7 linked regions of the Homo sapiens genome follow. The protein of the gene in region 5 purifies or fractionates together with the protein of the main gene of each other region. This does not show direct contact. Each region holds a gene or a part of one and is shown on either strand. Other genes may lie near its edges.

Region 1 (3,500 bases), on a different chromosome or scaffold from region 5:
ATCTCTCCCCTTGTTCAACAACCAGCCTTTCTGTGTATACTTTTCCCCTTTACGATCTATTCAACTCACTGTGACGAGAGCTGTTTTAAAGAGACCGACAATCCAAGCTTTACAAAATTTTTTTAATGCATCCAGACTGTAGATTCTTATTTTCTACCAACCAGGACTCCTTGGGAAAATGACTGACTCCAGGCGTAAAGCAGGAAGTAGTACACAAAGATGGGCCTAGACCATCTCATTATGACAGAAAGAGGGAAACTTTCAAAGCTGCCCAGGCACCATCACCTATGAAGTATTCTTGCTAAAAATGTTTAACCTGCATCTCAATCACACCTCTCCAGACCTAACTTCCAGTATATAGGAAGTTCAGGGGATAAGATACAAGTTCAATGATACTAAGAAGAAACAGATAAATACAGAATGTGAGTATTAAAAAACTAAGAAAAATAAGCCAGGAGTGGTGGCTCACGCCTGTAATCCTAGCTACTTGGGAGGCTGAGGCAGTAGGATAGCTTGAACCTGGGACGCAGAGGCTGCAATGAGCTGAGATGGTGCCACTGCACTCCAGCCTGGGCGACAGAGCAAGAGTCCGTCTCAAACAAACAAAAAAACCCAAACCTAAGCAAAATAAATGTCATGAAGGAACTGCTCCACACTAAAAGCCTGACTACATTAGGTTTTACCTAAAAACCCCTTGTACTACATGACTGGATTAGATCCCGGTTAAGAAAAAACCCAGCTATAAAGACATCCATGGAGTAACTGGGGAAACATGAATATGGCCTGGGCATTTAGTAATTAGATGGAATTACTATTAATGTTCTTAGGTGAAAAAACAGAACTGTGGTTATCCTCATTCTTGGAGACACATGCTGAAGTATTTAGGGGCAAAGTATCATAATTTCTACAACTTACTTTCAAATGCTACAACAAAATAAATGTACAGTGTGCTTGTATAAATACATACATACAAAGAGAGAAAAGGCAAAATGCTATCTGTTAAAGCCAGAGGAGGGTATACAGGTGTTCATTAACTATTCTTTCAACTTTTGTTTGAAGAAACCAATTGCAAAAATACCTATTTGAGACAACTAGGGCAGGGTGCAGTGGCTCACGTCTGTAATCTCAGCACTTTGGGAGGCTGAGGTGGGAGGACCGCTTGAACCCAGGAGTTCAAGACCAGCCTGGGTAACATAGCAAGACTCCATTTCTACAACAAACAAACAACTGAAAAATTGGAATACAACCTAGATATTACATCATAGTATGGAATTATTGCTAATTTTGCTAGCTATGTTATCATGGTTTCTTTTAAAATACTACAGATACATACTGAAGCAGTTGCAGATGGAATGATAGATGTCTAGACTTGCCTTACAACAATGCAGCAGGAGCGGGTGATGTGAAACAAGACTGGCAAAATAAAAACTACAGAAGCTGGAGGAGTGGGAGGTGCAATTCAGAGTTCTCCAATGCTTCATATATAAATTTCAAATTTTCCATAATAAAAAGTCAAAAGACCTAAATAACAAAACCTGAAAAGTCTCCAGTGACTTCTCACTACTCTTCCATTCTTGCTCTGGCCTAATGGTCAGTATATCTGGTCCTTCTCTGCCTTATCTCAAGCCACTCTCCTCCCGTTACCTCTCTATATTAGCTTCTCTACTCTGGAAAACTTTCTCCTGCCCCCAGGCCTTCAGAAACACCCTTTTCTGTTAGATAGATAGGCATTTTCTCGACGGGCACGGTGGCTCAAGACTGTAATCCAAGCACTTTGGAAGGCCGAGGTGGGTGGGTCACCTGAGGTCAGGAGTTCGAGACCAGTCTGCCCAACATGGTGAAACTCTGTCTCTACTAAAATTACAAAAATTAGCCAGGCATGGTGGTGTGCACCTGTGATCCCAGCTACTCAGGAGGCTGAGGCAGGAGAATCGCTTGAACCCGGGAGGTGGAAGTTGCAGTAAGCCGAGATTGTGCCACTACACTCCAGCCTGGGTGACAGAGTGAAAGAAACTCCGTCTCAAAAAAAAAAAAAGAAAGAAAGAAAGGCATTTTCTTCTGCTCACCATCTCTCTGCCTTATTCATTAGGGCTCAGTTCTACAGCATGTCCTTAGGGAAGCTGTTGCCAGCTCTCTAGACTAGTTGTGCTGTGTGCATTTTCTTGTCACAATAGCACGGTTTATTCAATACTCATCTTCTACGCTAGACTGAGTTTCAGGGGGGCAAGGACCATATTTGTCTTTTTTTTGAGACAGAGTCTCTTTCTGTCGCCCAGGCTGGAGTATAGTGGAGTGATCTCTGCTCACTGCAACCCCTGCCTCCTGGGTTCCGGTTTAAGCGATTCTCCTGCCTCAGCCTCCCTAGTAGCTGGGACCACAGGCGTGTGCCATCATGCCTGGCTAATTTTTTTTTACTTTTGTATTTTTAGTAGAGATGGGGTTTCATCACGTTGGCCAGGCTGGTCTTGAACTCCTGACCTCAGGTGATCCACTCGCCTCAGCCTCCCAAAGTGCTGGGATTACAGGTGTAAGCCACCGCGTCTGGCCATTTGTCTTCTTTACAAAGCCTTTCCAATGCTTAGCCCAGTGCCTGGCCTGTTCAGGTGCTAAGTAAGACAAAATTGCCATGTGTGCCATCAACCAAGGTAGTAGGATCTAGGGGTCCCAAGAAGAAATGTGAAAGGTGGCCTCTGATTTCCATTTTTTTTTTTTTTTTTGAGACGGTGTTTTGCTCTTGTTGCCCAGGCTAGAGTGCAACGGTGCGCTTGGCTCACCACAACCTCCGCCTCCCAGGTTCAAGCAATTCTCCTGCCTCAGCCTCCCGAGTAGCTGGGATTACAGGCATGCACCACCAACGCCTAGCTAATTTTTTTGTATTTTTTCAGTAGAGACGGGGTTTCTCCATATTGAGGCTGGTCTCGAACTCCTGACCTCAGGTGATCTGCCCGCCTTGGCCTCCCAAAGTGCTGGGATTACAGGCGTGAGCCACTGTGCCCGGCCTCTGATTTCCCTTTTTGAGATGGAGTCTCCCTGTCGCCCAGGCTGGAGTGGAATAGTGCGATCTCGGCTCACTGCAACCTCTGCCTCCTGGGTTCAAGCGATTCCCATGCCTCAGCCTCCTGGGTAGCTGGGACTACAGGTACGTGCGCCACCACACCATTTTTTTTTTTGAGATGGAGTTTCGCTCTTGTTGCCCAGGCTGGAGTGCAATGGCACAATCTCGGCTCACTGCAACCTCTGCCCCTACTGGGTTCAAGCAATTTTCAAGCAATTTTTCTGCCTCCGCCTCCCGAGTCACTGGGATTATAGGCACCCACCACGCCCAACTAAATTTTGTTATTTTTAGTAGAGACAAGATTTCGCCATGTTGGCCAGGCTGGTCTCGACTCCTGACATCAGGTGATCCACCCACCTCGGCCTCCCAAAGTGCTGGGATTACAGACATGCGCCACAGCGCCCAGCATTTTTGTATTTTTAGTACAGATGGGGTTTCACCATAT
Region 2 (3,500 bases), on a different chromosome or scaffold from region 5:
TTGGATTTTGTTTTTGTTTCTTGGAAAAAAAAACATAAGGGAAAAATCTAGCTGGCTTTTGAAAAGAATGACTACTTTCTATCGCAAGGACAGAAAACCAAACAGCACATGTTCTCACTCATAGGTGGGAGTTGAACAATGAGAACACTTGGACACAGGGTGGGGAACATCACACACCAGGGCCTGTCGTGGGGTGGGGGGAAGGGGGAGGGATAGCATTAGGAGATATACCTAATGTAAATGATGACTTAAGGGGTGCAGCACACCAACATGGCACATGTATACATATGTAACAAACCTACACGTTGTGCACATGTACCCTAGAACTTAAAGTATAATAATAAAAAATAATAATAATATTTAAAAAAGACCAATTTCAAAGTATTCTTGAGAGCTAGTTGTTTAAATGATGTGTTCCTTTTTTGATAACTAAACAATTTAATGGAAAAGCCACTATAAGTGACAGAAAAGCTAACAATACTTGGTTTAGGTATTTTAAAATGAAACAGTAACAATGCATTGCTCTATCTCTTTCTCCATTTTCAAGTTCTTATTGAAAGTTGTCAGTGCAGCTGTCCAGGCCCAACATTCAGCCACAAAGGTCAAAGATCCCACAGAAGAGGCCACACCCACTCCTTTTGGGAAAGACCAAGATTGGCCAGCTCTAGCTGTGGATTTAGCCCATCACCTTCAAGTTAGTGAAGATGTTGTTAGAAGGCATTATGTGGGGGAACTATACAACTATGGAGTTGACCACTTAGGAGAAGAGGTAATCATGACCCTTTGAATGTTAATTGGGCTCAAGTTATAAAATTGATAGTTGGAATAAAGAATCAGTTAAGTTTCCAATGAAGCCTTTTGCTCTTCCTTTTATTAGAACATCTAGGTATAAAAATAGAACAATAGAATATTTTTTAAAACATAAAATTATAATCAAATAATTCCTACAGTGTGCCAGGCCTGCCCTACGCACAGGGATATAGCAGTAAACAAAACAGACAAGGTTCCTTCATCATGGACTTGATAGTCTGCTGGTAGGAGCAGAAAAGCATGCTAAATTTTGCATTGAATGATAGGTGCTATGAAGAAAATAAAGAGGGCCGGGTGTCGTGGCTCACACGTGTAATCCCAGCACTTTGGAAGGCTCAGGTGGCAGATCACTTGAGCCCAGAAGCTCGAGACCAATCTGGGCAATATAGCGAGACCCCGTCTCTAAAAAGGAAAAAAATATTTATTTTTAAATTGAAAAAGAAAGAAACAGGATCATATGAATAAACAGGAGCCACTACAGTAGAGTGGTCAGAGAAGGTGACATTTGAACCGAGCCCCCAAGGAGAAGCAGCAGCCAGCTACTCAGAAACTGGGGGAACAGTGCTTGAGACAAGAATTACAAAGGCCCTGAGGTGGGGACTAGAATGACTAGGTCCAGGACTAGAAAGGCCAGTATGGCTGACCAAACATAGTAAGCAAGGAATAAAGAAGTATGGCATGAGGCAGGGAGGCTGGCCCGGGCCATGGCCCTATCCTAGGTCTCGGAGCCCATGGTTATTCTAAGTGTATTCAGAAGCCATTAGAGGGGCTGGGCGTGGTGGCTCACGCCTGTAATCCTAGCACTTTGGGAGGCCAAGGTGGGTGGATCACTTGAGGTCAGGAGTTCAAGACCAGCCTGGGCAACATGGTGAAACCCTGTCTCTACTGAAAATACAAAAAATTAGCTGGGCGTGGTGGCATGTGCCTGTAATCCCAGCTACTTGGGAGGCTGAAGCAGGAGAATCGCTTGAACCCAGGAGGTGGAGGCTGCAGTAAGCTGAGATTGCACCACTGCACTCCAGCTTGGGTGGCAGAGTGAGACTCCATCTCAAAAAACAACAAAAAAAAGCCATTAGAGGGTTTCAAATAGACATGACATGAAACTCCTTTTATTTGCCAAAAGTTTGAAAACAGCACACTGAGTAGCCACATTGAATTGAAAGATTAGGTGATGAGAGAAAAAAAAATTAACCAAGGAACAGAAATTTGGGTTTAAATGCTAAGTTTGATTTGGATTTATCTTTGGTTGTATACAATCAAAAGATAAATGGCCACAGTTCAAAAATCAACTAGAATCTCTTCACTGGCAACCCCTTTCCTATAGAATAAACAAATCTGCTCACTCTGACTGTATTATTTCTCCATGTTCCTATCTTCAGGCCATTCTACAGGTTCATGACAAAGAGGTCCTTGCCTCTCAGCTGCTGGTGCTCACGGGGCAAAGGCTGGCTCATGCGCTTCTCCACACCCAGACAAAAGAAGGAATGGAGCTGCTTGCCAGACTTCCACCCACACTGTGTACTTGGCTGAAAGCAATGGTCAGTACAATAGAACGAGATCAGGCAAAAGGTCATTGGATGTTTTCTTGAGTGCCTGGTTAATAACAGTTATGAAGAAAATTTGACAAGTTTAATTCACCTAGTTACAAAGAAAAGCATTTTTATGTAATAACTCTTAAGTCAATAACAATTATTGTTTAGTTGTCTATAATAGGTTATTTTTGTGTCCCATTTGCAGGACCCCCAGGACCTTCAAAACACTGAAGTGCCAATTGCAACAACAGCTAAACTAGTAAATAAAGTAATTGAGCTTTTACCAGAAAAACATGGGCAATATGGTCTAGCCTTACACCTCATTGAAGCTGTGGAAGCCATATCTCTTCCTTCTTTATGACACTTACCTACTGGAAATAGTCTAAAATTATGATTATAACATGAAGTAGTGCATGGTTATTTTACATAGTAAGACCTGGAATTTTATGGGAAAAGTATGTCTTTTTTTTTCCTTTTGTAAAATAAATAAAAGTATATACAACTTTTAAAAAGTGCAACCCTGGCTAAATTCCACTCCTTTGGTTAATACTGAAGATAAAATATAAACAAATGTCAACTCTGTTATAATTAATACAGATGTTTTACTGTTTATTTCTAATTCAAACACTTAAGTAGCTTTATTGTTAAACTTTGCTATTTAAAATTGGTTATAATTTAGATTATGTTCTTATAAGATTCTATATTTCCTATCTAAAATGTTGTTGTAATTCAATTTAAATGTGTTCATGTACAGTCCCCATCAGTAGCGTATAGAACACCCCACTCTCCTTTAGTAAATGTTGAGAAAATGCCTTTGTTGTCATGCTCCAAATCCCACACTGGGCTGCCACCTGGGAGTTCTGGATACCGAAAGGTTCCTTTCCCAGAGGTTCTGCTGTTGCCATCAGAGGAGGATGACCGTGCTTGAGGAGGAAGAATGGGTTCAAGATCATCATATTCATCAGAAGGGGACACTAAATAGAACCCTTAACCTGTTGTACTTGCCAAAATTGAGAATCAGAGATGTGTAAAATGCAGCAAATTAATTATAATGTAAGTTAAGATTTGCTTTTTGCCAAGTTGCAAAGTTGTATCCACATCAGGTCACTGTAAAAATGTATTATCTTGTAAAACTTATGTAAAAAAAAAAAAAAAAAA
Region 3 (3,500 bases), on a different chromosome or scaffold from region 5:
ACAAATCAAATGCTCATTGATGAATGAACGGATAAACAAAATGTGACACATACAATGGAATGTTATTTAGCCATAAAAAGAAAGGAAATTCTGACATGTACTACAACATGGATAAACCTTGAAGACAATTATGTTAAGTAAAATAAGCCAGACCCAAAAGCCTTATTCCACATACACAAAATGGTATAATTCTTTAAAATATGCTTCTATTTATATGAGGTACCCAGAATAGTCAAAATCACAGAGGCAAAAAGTAAAATAGTAGTTACCAGGGGTTGGGGACTGAGGGGACAGAGGAGTTATTGTTTAATGACTATAGTTTCAGCTGGGGATGATGAAAAAGTTCTGAAGACAGATGGTGGTGATGGTTGCACAGTGATGTGAATGTACTGGATGCCACCAAACTGTATATTTAAAAACAGAGAGTAAATTTTACGTTCCGGATATCTTGCCACACACAGGCACAAAACTTCGATGATTCCTTATTATCTGACTAACAAAAGTACAAATTACTCATCTTAGCATCAAAAATCCTCCAGAGTAAGCCAAACTCTTTCTAGACTTACCTCTCATTAATTCCACTTTTGTGGTAAATTGAATATTAGTTTAATCATGTTAAGTTATGGGGAAGGCTGAATTATATAAAGAAAACTAGTAATTTTCAAGGTTTAATAAGCTATTTTGCATTGTGAAACTCCAAAAGGGCCTAGGAACAAATAAATGAACTTGAAAAAAAATGTATTCAATTAGATTATTCTTACCTATGTTGATCAAATTTAATGACTTAATGGTATTATACTTACAGTGAAAAAAGAAGTCCCACAAAAGCGAGTACATATTCCTCGTACAAAGCCTTCATGTGCTTGTATTGTACGGATACAATTCCGCTGAGTTAGATTCCAAATTCTAACCTATGATAAGGCATACCAGGAAATTTCAGTGAACTATAAATGTAAAATGTTCAGGATAAATTCAACACTGACAAGGCTACGAATCACTCTACTGGGCAGCTAAAACCAAAATCCTTTGGATTAAAACAATGCAATGCATATGGATAAGTATACTGATGAGCAAAAAATACAACCTGACAAATACTCTGTTGATTCTAAAGTGTTACAAAACTTTTTCACTTGCCATAGTAGGAAATTAGGTGTTGACAACATCTGTGAAAAAACTCATACTTAAATACTTTAATTATAAACATGATTATTTAATTTACTGTCAAATTGATCCTTAAACTACTGCATTTATAATTTCTTAGGTTTAAAGAAGAAAATACTAAACAGTATTCCTAACGAAATTTAGTCTTGAGAAGTAAATTGAAATCCAATAAAGTAAAACCTACAGTAACTAAAAACTAAAGGGAAAACATTTGTAATATAACTACTTTTAGTTGAAAATATCATCTAGATTGACACTTGCCTCTCCATCACACGCCCCAGAAAGGACAGTAGCCAGCTTCTCTGGATGCTTTGCCAAGCAATTGACTCCATCACGGTGACCATCCAGCGAAGCAAGGAATGGTTTTGCAAATACTCGTTCCAGTTTGGTAGCATTTAAAGCTCTTATATATTCTCGTGGGACCTCAAAAGGATGTAAAGCAGGATCATAGTTTCTTGGAACTGAAATAAGAATGATCCTTCTTAATAATTCACACTTAATATTTCCTGCAGTCTTCCTCAGCTAATCACTCTGTTATTCAATAAGCATTTAGTTAGTGACATTGTTCTATGCCTAACACTAAGAATACAAAAGTAGAAGACCTGTTGTTCAGAAATCTTTCTGAAATTACTGGAAAATCATGGGATGCATACATCTTGCAAAACAATTAGACCCTAGGTATATATACATGCAGCATTTCCTTTTTTTTTTTTTTTTGAGACGGAGTCTTGCTCCGTCACCAGGCTGGAGTGCAGTGGCGCAATCTCGGCTCACTGCAACCTCCGCTTCTCAGGTTCAAGCAATTCTCCTGCCTCAGCCACCCGAGTAGCTGGGATTACAGGCGCATGCCACCACGCCCAGCTAATTTTTCTATTTTTAGTAGAGATGGGGTTTCACCATATTGGTCAGGCTGGTCTCGATCTCGTGACCTCGTGATCCACACGCCTCAGCCTCCCAAAGTGCTGGGATTACAGGCATGAGCCACCGTGCCCGGCCTCCCTTTTATATGTCCTAGTACCCTCTTCAACTGGGTTGTAAGTGTTCACTGTCAGGGCTTCCAATACACTTTTCATTTGTACTTCCTTATGCCTAGCACAGTTTCTGGGACAAAATATGTGCAAGATGTTTGCTCAACAGAACTCTAAGCTTCCTGTAGGGCAGGGAACATTATTAATCTCTGGTGCTAAATACTGTGCTGATAGACACACGAAGTTGTGATTATGATGATATTATATAGCTATCATTTACTGAGCACTTTCTATGTTTGTTTACTTACTTAAAAAAGACTCACATAAGAGTTCAAGTGCCAGGCGCTGTTCCAAAAACCTTAACCGTTTAATCTCCACAGCATCCTATGTGTTAAGTTCTATTACTATCTCACACTTTATTGATGGGAAAACTGAGGCATAAAGAGGTTAAGTAACTCGAATACGACACGGTGGAGCCAGGATTCAAACCAAGGCAGTATGGCTCCAGAATCTATGTTTTAACTGTCCTGATACGCTGCTAAACACATTGTCTTGGTTAATAATCACGCTTAGGGCCGGGCGTGGTGGCTCACGCCTGTAATCCCAGCACTTTGGGGGGCCGGGACGGACGGATCACGAGGTCAGGAGATCGAGACCATCCTGGCTACCACAGTGAAATCCCATCTACTAAAAATACAAAAAGTTAGCCAGCGGTGGGGGTGGTATGTGCCTGCAGTCCCAGCTACTCAGGAGGCTGAGGCAAAAGAATCACTTGAACCTGGGAGGTGGAGGTTGCAGTGAGCCGAGATCGCGCCACTGCACTCCAGCCTGGCTGACAGAGTGTGACTTCATCTCAAAAAAAAAAAAAAAAAAAAAAAAAAAAAAAAAAATATATATATATATATATATATATATATATATATATATATATAATTATGCTTAGAAAGTAATTTTAAGCTCGTATGTCTAAAAAAACTCAGTGAGTAAAAAGTAAATGCATCTTCTTACCCCATGACTTCATCCTGCTGTTTCTTTCTGACTCCCTGGTAATGGTGTTATATCTAACATTCAACAAAGCTCTAGCCTAGGTCATTCTTATGTATTCCATCTTCCATATTCCCTACTACCAAAACTCAAAGTCCTACTCATCATCTCTTTGCAACACTTACTCATCTTTCAACTCTCTATTTCTAGTTTTTTGTGTTTTGTTTTTGTTTTTGTTTTGAGATGCGGTATCATTCTGTCACCCAAGCTGGAATGCAGTGATATGACTATAGCCTACTGCAGCCTCAACCTCCAGGGCTTAAGTGATCCTCCCACCTTAGCCTCTCACCTCAGCCTCCCAAGTAGCTTGGACCTGAGGCATGCACC
Region 4 (3,500 bases), on a different chromosome or scaffold from region 5:
GGAAAAGGGCGGGGGAGAAGGATTAATCTTGTCAGAAAACTAAGGTCAGTAGAATAAAATACAAGAAATTAAGTTGACAAAATGAAACATAATGAGAAAAATTTTTTTGGACAAAAACAATTCAAAATCAGACTTGGCTAATAATACCAGTCTGACAGATTCTGAGAACTAAGGAGAGCCAATTGATGTTATTTTGCCCAGAGCTAAATATACTTTTCTTAAAAGTATGACAGTATCTGGTTCCTCTGACCAGCCATTATAATAATCTTTGCAATACACTGAACATACACATGGAATACAGAAGTCTCTATTTAAGGTCACCAGTTAACTAACTTAATAGGCAATAACGCTAGCTAACAGTAAGACATAAAGGCAAATGTTTGGAGGCCAAATCAAAATCACTTGCCTAGTCTTCTGACAAGATAAAGCAGCGCAATATAGTTCTTTTCCATTGGAAGACAGCATTCTACCTCCTGTTCAAGTTAACAGTCTCATCAGTACAAATATAGTGTGCTAGTCAGACAGTCCCAAAGCAAACCAATTTTTTGTTAACAATTCAGGCCCATTAAGAGTTTGTATCTGGTTTGTCATTTTTCAAGGGTAGGGGTACTTTTAAAAAACATAAAATGTAGTATTTGTAAAATAAATATGAAACAGGGTCAAAATTTAGACTATACGAGAACCTGTCCCATTCCGTAACTCAGTGTAATTTACACTGCAGGAAAAAAACTATACCTCTCAAACTTTAAGATCAGCCAATTTCCCCTACCCCCTACTTTGAGACTACAACATAACTAGCACTTCCAACTATTACAATAAAAAGCTGCATGTACGAAGAGCTGTGTAAATGAAAACATGGTTAATGCCTCAGTCGCTGCGCAAACGTGACTTCAGTTCATGTCTACCGCCCTTAAATCTACCTGAGCTACCTCACAGATAGAACCTTGCAATTTAAACTAATTAATCATGACGCGCTGTGAACATCTGCCGCTGTCCATCCAATAGTAGTAGACACTTGTGCTGAGGATTCTCCCATCTGTACACAATGGGGAAGAAGATAATAGAAGTCATTAGTAATCAAAAGTACTGCATAGCCACATTGTTTAAAGGACTGAATGCCAGCTGGACTGGAGAGAGGAGGAAAAGGAAGGGTTCCAATCAGTAAACCCCCTGAAATTACTACAGAACCAAGAAAATACTCTCCCTGTCGTGAGCTTTTGTAAAGCTATGTGGATATGAAGATAATTATTTAAAACTTCTAAGATGTTACAAGGGGTGTCCAATCTTTTGGCTTCCCTGGGCCACACTGGAAGAACTGTCTTGGGCCACACATAAAATACACTAATGATAGTTGATGAGCTTAAAAAAAATAAAAAATAAAAAAACTCACAATGTTTTAAGAAAGTTTACAAACTTGTGTTGAGCCACAGGCTGGACAAGCTTGCTGTAAGAGCTTGAGATTGTGTAAGAGGTATCTATATAATTTTGGAAAGCTACCACCATAAATGCTCAGTGCAGAGATAAACCCTGAGAAGAGAAAGAAACAATACTGTGTATCATTAAGAATTTAACTTTTAATAATTCTTAAATTAAAAACTGAATATCAAATGTTTTCTGTAATACATTTCAAGCTCAATAATCCAGATTTCAGGTTCAAAATTCCTAAGGGCCTTAGAAACTTAAGTTTAAATCCCTATAAGAATGAATTATAAGAACCTGAGCAGAAACCTGGAAGGCAAATGTTGTCATCCAGCAACCAATATTGAGGTCTCTTGAGCCTAAGGGTAGATGTCTCCCATGTACAGGAGCTATACAGAGCCTCCCCCCAGCCCCACAAGATGAAGTCTCGCTCTGTCACCCAGGCTGGAGTGCAGTGACACAATCTCGGCTCACTGCAACCTCCACCTCCTGGGTTCAAGTGATTCTTCTGCCTCAGCCTCCCAAGCAGCTGGGACTACAAGCACATGCCACCACGCCCAGCTAATTTTTGTATTTTTAGTAGAAATGGGGTTTCACCATATTGGCCAGGCTGGTCTCAAACTCCTGACCTTGTGGTCTGCCCGCCTAGGCCTCCCTAAGTGCTGGGACTACAGGTTTGAGCCGCTGCGCACGGTCAGTATTTCCTTTATTTATTTATTTATTTTGAGATGGAGTCTCCCTCTATCGCCCAGGCTGGAGTGCAATGGTGTGATCTCAGCTCACTGCAACCTCTGCCTCCTGAGTTCAAGCAATTCTCCTGCCTCAGCCTCTCAAGTAGCTGGGATTACAGGCATGCGCCACCACGCCTGGCTAATTTTTGTATTTTTTTAGTAGAGATAGGGTTTCACCATGCTGGTCTCATGCTGGTTTTCACCAGGCTGGTCTCGAACTCCTGATCTCAAGTGATCCACCCACCTCAGCCACCAAGAGCGCTGGGATTACAGGGGTGAGCAACCGCGCCCGAAGCTATACAGAGCCTTTTAACATGAGGTCAAAATACTCTCTTCTACCTGTTATTACAGCAATCCAAAAAAAGTTATCTATTTTCAAATTAACAATCTGAGACTCTACTTTTAGTAGCTAATTAGTTGTATCACAGGGAAACTTTTTTTTTTTTTTTTTAAATATTTAAGAGCTCAAAGGTATACAGGCAGAAAGTGGAAAATCTCACTACTACTTTTTATTCTAAGCTCACGGTGTTTCAGATATCTATTTCACAACCAAGACCATGAAACCCATCATAGTATTTGTGACTACTATGAAAACTATGACATGTCAGTCAGCCTTGCTGCCTGCTGTGTGCTGTATATAAGTCCATTACATATTCCTTATAGCTGGATTGAAAACCTGAAAATGAAATGAAGTCCCTAGAGAAACTTGGCCATGCTGGTGCTTTTTACCAAGTTTGACAATTTAAAAAAAAAAAATCAGTGTTCAAAGGAGACATACAAAAGTCCATTTAATGTAGCAGAGATGTTTAGGGGATTACAATTTCTATCCCCTGGTAAAACCAATACTTGGTAGAAGGATAAAGAAAAAGCCACGTGAAATAATACTGAATAGCACCAGAATAGCCTTACACTAAAGCTCGCATGCGCACAGGGCTGGGAGGATGGCTTCCTCTTGCCAGGCCCTTTAGGTCATTTCAGCAATTGTTCTGTTAAACATAGCATTAATGTTATCAAGACACAGCAAGCAGCAGAAAGCTTGTGGAGTCACATTTCATAGTGTCTCATCTCCAAATCAGATAAAAGTGGTATACAGGGTTCCATCCAGAAAGCATTCAGTCAGAGCAAGTTAAAGTCAGTACTTTCTAACATACTTTTAAGATACTTATGCTGAATTAGCCCAAGGGAGAAAAATTAATGTGCTTGATGTATTTACTAAGACTTGCATCTCAAGTCTTCAATAATGCCTATTTTTGAAAGAAACCTAGGCAACGAATTGAAGAGACTTGGAAATGTGCCAATTCCCTAAATGTTTTTCTCCCTGTGGGATAATTTTTTTTAAAGGGACAATAT
Region 5 (3,500 bases):
TGATATCATACCCCACAAGTGGGGTCGCCGCTGTGAGGTGACATTTCAGAATGGTGATCAATTCCTGAGCTAAACAAAGCAGTCTTCCTTCATTTTACACAGTATTCATATTCCTGGGAAAGTCAGTATGTAAGGCTAAGTAGAAATACCCATTACTTATACAATTAGCAGTTAGCATCTAGGATTATCACCATTTTGCCAAGGTAGTTTACTGTATTCAAACCCAACTTTTTCCCCCTCTGGCTATAGTATTTTAAAATGAGTGACAGACATATTTCATCTGTACCCAGTAGCATTCCAGCCTGCTTGTAATTTTTGACAGCACCTGTATTGTCCAGGGACTATTGTGTTACATTACAAGGTGGTAGAGTACTTCGGAGCTGACTCAACAGTTTGCCTTCACTCTAAGATATTTCAAGTAGATCCTGATATTCTTAGTTTGAACCTTATGGGCCTGTCTTATTTTGGATCCTGCTGCTAATAGTTGAGTCTGAATTCATATGACTGAAGGCTGAGACCTGGTTCCCTAGAGGCATATCCCTTGGCCTTTACCTTGATAGGAAGTTTGACAATGCATTTTAAAAATAAGGCATCTTTATACACAGTGACAGTTTATCTATCATTTACATATTTGAATCTTATAAATGTTTAAAACTTGCTTCTTTGGGCACCAAAACTTTTAAAATTATTTTTTAAATTGAGATATTTTTCTCAGTGGCCTTTGGGCATCATTGGAAATGTTAATTTTGCTGACTTGTAGTGGGCTTATTTTATTTAATTTTTTTTCAGACAGAATCTCCCAGGCTGGAGTGCAATGGTGTGATCTCGACTCACTGCACCCTCTGCCTCAGGGTTCAAGCGATTCTCCTCTCTCAGCCTCCCTAGTAGCTGGGACTACAGGCGTGTGCCACCACGCCCGGCTAACTTTTGTGTTTTTAGTAGAGACGGGGTTTCACCATGTTGGCCAGGCTGGTCTCGAACCTGTCACCTCAAGTGATCCGCCCGCCTTGGCCTCCCAAAGTGCTGAGATTACAGGCATGAGCCATCGCGATCAGCCAGCTTATTTTTATATATTGTTCTTTGCCTTTAGGATAAATAGTTCCTTATCACTTTGCTTTTGTAGTTCTCCATTTCTGCTTTGTACTGTGGCCTACATCCTAATTTTGCATTATTTTATCTAAACTTATCTGAAGTAGGGCCTCAGTGATTCTACTGTGCTTGGATGGGACTTTATGATAGCCAGCAGTCTTTAAACTGGGATACCCTACCCAAGCTCCCTGGGGGGAGATATTCAGCGTGTATGCTGTGTGGATGGTTGTAAGGTGATAGATAACATTTCCAGACTGGCCCTTCCTAAAGCTGCCTGAGAACACACCTGTGGTCACAGTGGCCCCTCCCACTTTACACAGGAAGAATCAGACCTTCACCCATCCTAATCTTGTAGTGCATTGCCCCAGGCTCTGAAAATTCTCGTGGACAGCAGACAAAAGGACAATTAGAAAGACTGGTTTTAGGGACTGTTCCCTTAGTGCTCAGTCATGGCATCATGAGGAGAGAGGGGTTTCTGGGTGTTGCTGTTGAAAGGAGAGCTTGGTCTACATGAAGGTGTTCTGAATTCAGAAGTGTCAAGGCCAATACCGATTCCTGATGCTGGCCCATTTTTTTAAATTTAACTGGAATTTTTCTAGGACTATCAAAAAATGTGAAGATATGTTGGATAAGGCACATAGATCGAAAAATTAAGTGCCTTCTTTCAGATTTCAGATAACTAATCCAGTAACTTAGTTAAAACCTTTGGTAAATGTCAAATCATAATGAAGTAATTATCCCAGGCACAGCTGCCAATCTTTATTTTATTTTATAAAATGTTTAATATTCCTCTTCTCACAGAAAATATACTTATTTAGAGTTATGCTGAAAAATTTTAGATGTCATCTAAAAAATGATAAGGGGGGCATTTCATTGTCTGAAATTTATTTAAGGTGTACATGACAAAAATAGCTTGAAGATCATTAGCTTGGAATATGACTTGCAGGAGAGCAAAGACTGCGTTTCTCGTTTTCATTGTTACATCCCCAGCGCCTTGCACCATCTCTGCATAAAATAGATTCTCAATAAATATTTGATGAATGAATTGATGGGTGGGTAGTGAGTATATATGTCTGTTTCAGTTGGCTGAAGTTTCTGGAAGTCAGCTGCCTTCCAGAATGTAGTAATGGGGGCATTACTACATTTTGATAGTAATTTTCTGAAGTAGAGCTATCAGGAGAATGATTTGTATAATTATAAAAATTAAACATAGAAACAAGATAATTTTTCAAAAATATAAATTACCCAGAAAGGTAGTAATTAATCTGTTTTATAATTAATCTCAGTTTTTAGAATTTATAAAAATATTTTCAGGCTTACAAACATTGTATCTGCTTGACTTCACTAAAACAAACAAACACCTCATGAATTTAGACTTGACTGAATTTGGGATTCAAGAAGGGAGCGTATGAGAGGCTGACTATGCCCTGGATGAGGTGTCGGCGGTGGTGGGGCAGGATGGGTGGCAGTTCCCCTGTCCTAAATGTGGGGGTCAGCAGTAATAAGTGTGTAAACCTGGAACTTAAATGTTTATACATAATTTTAAAAAAATATGGTAGTGCTTCATTCTGTAATTGGATTTTTCATCTTGGGTATTAGTAACTAATCTTTGACTATAATATTTCTATTTGAATATTCATACTTGTAATCTGGATGTTTTAAAATAGGTTGTAACAGAGACTTTTAATTTCTAAGAACAACACTAGTAAAATAATATGCCACTTGTAAATTGAGAATACTTTTTGATTTAATCTTTTCTTTTTCAGCCTTCTTGGGTGATTCTGTCCGTTCAGTGTGGAACTCTTCTGCCGTATCCTTTTTTTTGAGTGGGGGAGGAGGGAAAGGGTAACTCTGGGTTTAAGACTGAAAGAAATGATAGTTAATGGAGTGAAAAGTGGATTCATTCGTTAGGACAGATTGTTTTGTCTACATCTTATATTCCTACTATTTTCCATCCTGTTTCAAATTTTATGTACCTGATCCTTGTTATTACTCATGTTAAAAGGGGGCTCAGCTGTGACAAGTAACTCTAGGCCGGGAACTGGAGGCAGGAGCTCCGGTTCTCTTCAGCTTTTGTGGTGCTAGCTAGATGAGGGATATTTCTAAAATTCTAAGTCTATGTGAATCAAATCATGAATTGTTTGAAGAGTAAGTTGGGGAAGAGAACATGAGAATAAAATTTATAACATGCATTGTTAATCCTTTTAATTGCATTGGGTAGAACGATTATTAATTCAGTGCACCTGTGCTGTGGGTTGAGTACTGAAAATAGAGGGGTGAAGAAGACCATTTCTGCCCTCAGGGAGCTTCCTTGCTTGCATTGTTCGTTCATGGAGCATTCATAGATGTGCCCTTGCCCTGGCACTGTGTCAGGAGTCAGAAATGAGGCGTTCTACAGGCCTCCTGTTTAC
Region 6 (3,500 bases), on a different chromosome or scaffold from region 5:
AGCAATTTTTAGAATATTAGCTGCAAAAAGAGAATCCCATCAGTATCATCCCTCCTCCCTCATTACCATTCTCAAAACCACCTAAACTGACAATGACACATTTCTTCTAAAGGCTTACAGATTAAAAATAGAAAACCAATAACCCTCATAACATTCAATACCAGAGTTAAGTGAGCTGATCATTCTCTTATATACTAGAAATTAGTACAATTTTTCAGGGAAGTAATTTGGAAATATTTACCAAGACTTTTAGGAAGTGTATACTTTTCGACTAAGTCATTCTTCTAAGAATCTATTGTAATGAAATAATCAGATCTGCATGCAGATAAATGTATAAAGATGTTCACAGGAGCTATATATGCATATGAGAAAATTTCTGAATTGTAGAAAAATTCAGCAACTGGAGGGTAATAAAATGTTGGTACATAGAAACATACAAAGAAATTACAGCAGGGCGCAGTGGCTCAGGCCTGTAATCCCAACACTTTGGGAGGCCGAGGCAGGTGAATCACTTGAGGTCAGGAGTTCAAGACCATCCTGGCCAAAATGGTGAAACTCCATCGCCACAAAAATACAAAAATTAGCCGGGCATAATAGCGGGTGCCTGCAATCTCAGCTATTCAGGAGGCTGAGGAGGGAGAACTGCTTGAACCTGGGAGTCGGAGGTTGCAGTGAGCCAAGATCACACTACTGCACTCCAGCCTGGGAAACAGAGTAAGGCTCCATCTCAAAAAAAAAAAAAAAAAAATTACATTACAATTGCACTGAGGCCATCAGTTTTAGACAGCTATTTGATAAAAAGACAATCTTCTATGTCACAAAGGTAGTTTTACAGCTGTCAAAACACTGAACGTGTTCCCTCCTAAAGTCCTACCTATTAATATTTAGTTCAATGTATCAGGTTAGATAAATCAATACTATGTTTCCCCATCAGAAAAATTGAATCATTTTGGTTCCCAAAACAATGCAAAGCTAACACCTATATAATCAGAAGACAAAAAAAAATCCCCCCAAAAAAGAAAAAAACAGGATATATGTGAACAAATTTGGTGGAAAAACTTCATTTACTTACTTACTGCACATTGTAACAGAGGAAAACAAAAAGGCAAGGGTCAAATTTTCAGTTGTTTGTAACTGCATTTCCTTTCCAGATGCCTAATAATGCTGTCCTTAGATTACAAAAATAACATTATTTCTAAATCACCGTATCACCCTCTACTGTCCCCTATCAAGTAGACTGCATGTTATGTGTTTTTTAGTTGTTTTCCACCAAGTGGTAATAAAGACTGGTTGTGGTAAGTTTCTTACCCAACCCTTTTATAGCCAAAAGCAAAATTAAGTTGATTCAGCAGGGCTGTGGGTATAATCTGTGGCAAATAATGCAAAACTCACAACTTCAAGTTAATTTAATACAGGGCTAACATGTACACAGTTGTGCAGCTGAAGAGACCAACCAGAGCTGGAATCCAGCCTACATTCCAGTCACCACGCATGTATCCGGACATAAAGGAGTACTTTTTCCTAATCATTAAGACTCAATATGAGCTAGTGGGAGATATGACTGAAGTCATGACCCAATCTAAATTAACATCATTATATAATCAACTGCATTAACTAAAAATGGCAAGTATACAGCCTCAAATCAATAAAGGATGTATGCAAAAAAAAAAAAAAACCTCTTCCTGGTCAACTAATAAAATGTACACAATACAATAAAGAGATAAAAGAATATATACGATAGTTAATATACAACCCAGACCAAAAAGTGGCTAGTAGAAAAAAATAACAAAAGTAAAAATAGCACCAGAACAAATGAAATACTTGTGAGAAATATTTCATGTAAAGTTTTATGTAATGTTTTATATAATGTTTCATAGAATAAGTTAAATAGGGAGATAAATGTTTTCTTAGATCTGAAAAAAAAAAAACCCTTGTAACACTAAAATCAGCCCCTATTTGTTAGGAATTATGCTTGTAATGGAAAAAACGGCCAAGTGTGGTGGCACACGCCTGTAATCCCAGCACTTTGGGAGGCCAAGGTGGGCAGATCGTGAGGTCAGGAGATCAAGACCATCCTGACCAACATGGTGAAACCCCATCTCTACTAAAAATACAAAAATTAGCTGGGCATGGTGGCGTGTGCCTGTAGTCCCAGCTACTTGGGAGGCTGAGGCAGGAGAATCGCTTGAACCCATGTGGCGGAGGTTGCAATGAGCCGAGATCACACCACTGCACTCCAGCCTGGTGACAAAGCGAGACTCGAGACTCTTGTCTCAAGAAAAAAAACATAAGAAAGCAGTTATTTTCAAGGCTGATAAAAATAAAGCAAAGGATGTACTACACTAAAGTGCTCTCTGTCTTGGGTTGTAAAAATGGGAAAATATCTACAGACTCGTACTTTGAATTATTGTGCATTCATATATATTAAAAAGTTAGAAAATAGTCAAGTAATTTGTCTAAAAACTGGCAAAGGATACAAAGAAGTCTTAGCATCCTGAAATTGCTGAACTGTTATGACACGACATAATGTCTTAGCCATTTCTAAAGAAGCATGCAGCATCAAAAAGTAAATATTTTTAAAAAGTGCCTTGTCTACAAGTTGAGGCACACAACACAGGAAACATGGTCTAATTTATTCAGGAAAAGTCATATTTCTACTCTATTTATCTAAAAATCAACTTACAAATAATAAGCCCCAATGAACACATACTGCATTCTCTATATTTATTAATAATCTGTCAACTCATCCCAGCTCCCATTTGCACTGGAAAATTTATAATTTCAAGAAACACCTAGTAACTTCAGAATATATCTACTTTTAATGTTATCTCCACCTATCCACTAGTTATCAATTTTTTCATTCAAAGGGCATTATAAAAAGCACCAAAACTCCTTACTTCAGGATTACAATTAATCTCTATTTACCAAAGAGAAGACTGGAAGTTTGCAATAATTTACAGGTAACTTATCAGATACCAAGCCTAGACTAGGAACTGGAAGTAATCCTCTACAAAAACATAAAGTGGCCAAGTGCAGTGGCTCATGCCTGTATAATCCCAGCACTTTGGCAGGCTGAGATGGGAGGATCACTTGAGCCCAGGATTTCAGGACCAGCTTGGGCAACACAGTGAGACCCCATCTCTACAGAAACAAAGGAAAAAAAAAAGACAAGTCAGGCACGGTGGCTCACACCTGTAATCCCAGCACTTTGGGAGGCTGAGGCGGGCAGATCATGAGGTCAGGAGTTCGAGACCAGCCTGGCCAACATAGTGAAACCCCATCTCTACTAAAAATACAAAAATTAGCTGGGCATGGCTGCGCCTGTAGTCCCAGCTACTCGGGAGGCTGAGGCAGAAGAATCACTTGAACTCGGGAGGCAGAGGTTGTGGTGAGCCGGGATCACACCACTGCACTCCAGCCTAGGCAACAGAGCAAGACTCTGTCTCAAAAAAAAAAAAAAAAAAAAAAAAGACAAAAGATGACACAGTTATGCAAAAATG
Region 7 (2,742 bases), on a different chromosome or scaffold from region 5:
CCCAGATTTGCCCGACGGCGATCATGCCTACCAGGCCTATGGGGGGGTTGATGGGGAACCCCAGCGCTGAAGACACAATGACCTTACATTGAAGGGGCTCCAATTATTAAACCCAAGTTAGTATTTATGCACCAAACTGAGAAAGAGCTACTTTAATTGACCTATTACAGACATCATGCTGTTGTATTTTTTGATCCAAATTCAAAACTGCAAAAATGTGACATTTCTTTAAGGACCAGCTTTACTCCATACTGTCTTCAGGAACCTGGTGATGGAGGTTCATCTCCCACTTCATCTCTGAGGTCTTTAGACAAACATTTGCTACTTTTGTAATCTATACCTGGCCTTGGGCAAGCCCCTGTCATCTGAAATAGCAAAATACAGGAGCCTGCTCTGGTACGGGAAGCTCAGGGTAGGCAGGTATGCATAAAATATGGATCCTCACAGGAAGGAAACATTCTGAAGGGTCAGAACATATTCGAAACTCATGCCACATAAAATAGGTGTCATTTTTACTTTATTTAAGGAAAAAAGGGTGGGGGGACAACAGTAATTTTCATAATACACAGTAGACAAGTTAGCACTGCAAAAAAAAGGGCTGTGTACTTGCCACCAGTCTGCTTTGCAGCTTTTATAATTAGTAAATTTAATGCAGTTTGTCATTTGTATTACTATTTAGCAAATTAATAATTGGCAAAATTAGGGTAAGTGTGCTACAACTAAGACGAAAACCTAAATAACCCATAAAAAGTCACTTAAAATAAACCATAAATATGTGGTGCGCATTAGTGTAACAAAACCATTTTTGTAAACATTTTCTCCAACGTAACATGTGCATGAGAAAAGAGTAAAAAACACTGCACTCAATACAGAAAGGGTTACTCTGATTTTAATACAGAAAGGTTATTACTTGTGAAAGCTCTGACTAAACCTAGAGACATTTTTGTTTTGTTTGGAAGAGCACTCCTCTAACAGTTCAATGTTCCTTATGTAATGGTGTCATTGCAATACTGTTTTCTTGTGTAATTTTGCCATATTGGCACTTCTGTGGAGAAGTTACTACCCTGTAAAAGGGGGGAAAATAATTCCTTTCCTAAAAGAATCTAAACATTTCGACGACTCCCAATCTTTAACGGAGAAACTTCACTGGGTCCCTGCATCAAGCTATAGCAACTCAATCTGGTTGACAAGGGGGTGAGGCTAAGACGGGAAGGAAAAAAGCCAAGTAAAGCACAGACCAGGAAGCCCCCGCCGAGAAGGACAAAGGGTGTTCCAATTTCAGTAACTTAAGCCCAACAATGGATTCAATTCAGTTCACCACAAACACCACCAGAGTGCCCACCGGGTGCCTGGAGCTGCACAAGCAAGCCAAGCACAACTCGGTGTGAGCTCAGACCCCTTTACCACCTATGGGAAAGCCAGCAAGTTCTAAGCACTTGGTAATTCCAATGAAACACCATTTGCATTTTTTTTTGTGTAACATTTGACTTACAGACATGGAGCTTCAAGTCTTTGGATAATGTTAAGACCATTATGCCACATCCTTTGTTCTCTGCCTTCTCCCACTTAGCATCAGACATTGAGCATTTCTTCAAAGACATCTGCCCACCTTTTACTGTTCTCCACCTGTGCCTTTCCTTCTTCTCTTGATATGTACACGAGTGTGTTCACTGTGGCATGTTTCATCTTATGAAAAGCCTAAACATGGATATAAATTACAAGCAGGAATTTAATTCTAACTAAAGTCCTGTGGCGATGGAATCCAGCCTACCTCAAATCCCTTTAAAGGTAGGATTAATTTTTCAACCTTCTCTAGGTTAACTACAAACCAGTAGGCGGCTTTGGCCTTCAGCACTGCTCCAAACTCATACAAATGAAACATCCATTTCCATCTTCTTTTACTTCCCCAAAAAGTAAGCTTCTCAGCTTGTCTTTACAGGTATACACAAAACCACCAGCTGCTGTGTCTGCATTCATGAGTGGATGTACTTGTCTTACCAGATGTTTGTAGCTCAAAGGAGGGCCTTTTTCAAAAAGATGGAACCAGGAACAGGAAACTGACAAGAGGTCAGAGTGGGTGCCAAGTGGGATGGGAAGCAAACAGGTACAAATGGCTGCTGTGTTTAGGTGGGTGGGAGCAGAGGGAAAATCCCCCATTTTCACAATATACAGGAAAATTAACCACAAAGGAAAAAGATCAAGCCTAAAAAACAGCAAGTTTCTTTTGATGACTGAGGTTAAAGCAGCCATAATGCAGTTATTTCCACTCAGAACTCGACAAGAGGAAAGTAAGATGGCAGGACTGTGACATGGAGTCCTGATCCTTTCCTGAGACGGTAATATCCTTACGGGAGCTTGAGTGATGACCATGAAGCCATGAAACAAATTCTTTCTCAAGACATTTATTACAAATGTCATGAATATATTCATAAAGTAAAATTGGTTTAAAAAAACAGAGAACAAGAGAGCAAGTGAGAAAACGAGAAAAGCCAGGACTTCGATATTACACCTAAAACACAGAAGATGCCCACTTTATGAATAAGCAGAATTAACTACATTCTTAAAATAGTTTTAGTGCATTGCATTTTTAGAAAAGGGAAACTCCCCCACCCCCAAGAAAAGGTTCCTGCAACACTGAACAGTTTGTGTGACTATTCTAATGTAACCACCTGTCTGCTACCAACCCCTCTACATCGAGAACAATGAGATCTTGTGTCATGGGCTGCAGTTGCCCCATCAACC

What was found.
Region 1: the proteins of PAXIP1 (region 5) and SRSF4 purify together in Homo sapiens (affinity purification with mass spectrometry, with the first as the bait; one large-scale study listed by BioGRID). This does not show direct contact.
Region 2: the proteins of PAXIP1 (region 5) and RAB3GAP2 purify together in Homo sapiens (affinity purification with mass spectrometry, with the first as the bait; one large-scale study listed by BioGRID). This does not show direct contact.
Region 3: the proteins of PAXIP1 (region 5) and DCAF13 purify together in Homo sapiens (affinity purification with mass spectrometry, with the first as the bait; one large-scale study listed by BioGRID). This does not show direct contact.
Region 4: the proteins of PAXIP1 (region 5) and OGA purify together in Homo sapiens (affinity purification with mass spectrometry, with the first as the bait; one large-scale study listed by BioGRID). This does not show direct contact.
Region 6: the proteins of PAXIP1 (region 5) and MOB4 purify together in Homo sapiens (affinity purification with mass spectrometry, with the first as the bait; one large-scale study listed by BioGRID). This does not show direct contact.
Region 7: the proteins of PAXIP1 (region 5) and MAP4K4 purify together in Homo sapiens (affinity purification with mass spectrometry, with the first as the bait; one large-scale study listed by BioGRID). This does not show direct contact.

What each region holds. Positions count from the first base shown.
Region 1 is NC_000001.11:29,150,901-29,154,400, forward strand, and holds part of SRSF4 (serine/arginine-rich splicing factor 4), read right to left. Parts: intron 1-3,500. UniProt on the Homo sapiens protein: Plays a role in alternative splice site selection during pre-mRNA splicing. Represses the splicing of MAPT/Tau exon 10.
Region 2 is NC_000001.11:220,150,454-220,153,953, reverse strand, and holds part of RAB3GAP2 (rab3 GTPase-activating protein non-catalytic subunit), read left to right. Parts: intron 1-547; coding exon 548-769; intron 770-2,189; coding exon 2,190-2,348; intron 2,349-2,547; coding exon 2,548-2,703; 3' UTR 2,704-3,500. UniProt on the Homo sapiens protein: Regulatory subunit of the Rab3 GTPase-activating (Rab3GAP) complex composed of RAB3GAP1 and RAB3GAP2, which has GTPase-activating protein (GAP) activity towards various Rab3 subfamily members (RAB3A, RAB3B, RAB3C and RAB3D), RAB5A and RAB43, and guanine nucleotide exchange factor (GEF) activity towards RAB18.
Region 3 is NC_000008.11:103,418,386-103,421,885, reverse strand, and holds part of DCAF13 (DDB1- and CUL4-associated factor 13), read right to left. Parts: intron 1,623-3,500; coding exon 1,423-1,622; intron 912-1,422; coding exon 804-911; intron 1-803. UniProt on the Homo sapiens protein: Part of the small subunit (SSU) processome, first precursor of the small eukaryotic ribosomal subunit.
Region 4 is NC_000010.11:101,794,445-101,797,944, forward strand, and holds part of OGA (protein O-GlcNAcase), read right to left. Parts: intron 1,528-3,500; coding exon of another isoform or gene 1,397-1,527; exon of another isoform or gene 1,037-1,396; coding exon of another isoform or gene 957-1,036; exon of another isoform or gene 1-956.
Region 5 is NC_000007.14:154,993,125-154,996,624, reverse strand, and holds part of PAXIP1 (PAX-interacting protein 1), read left to right. Parts: intron 1-2,853; exon of another isoform or gene 2,854-2,855; coding exon 2,856-2,899; intron 2,900-3,500.
Region 6 is NC_000002.12:197,536,566-197,540,065, reverse strand, and holds part of MOB4 (MOB-like protein phocein), read right to left. Parts: intron 1-3,500.
Region 7 is NC_000002.12:101,892,449-101,895,190, reverse strand, and holds the end of MAP4K4 (mitogen-activated protein kinase kinase kinase kinase 4), read right to left. Parts: 3' UTR 501-2,742; downstream 1-500.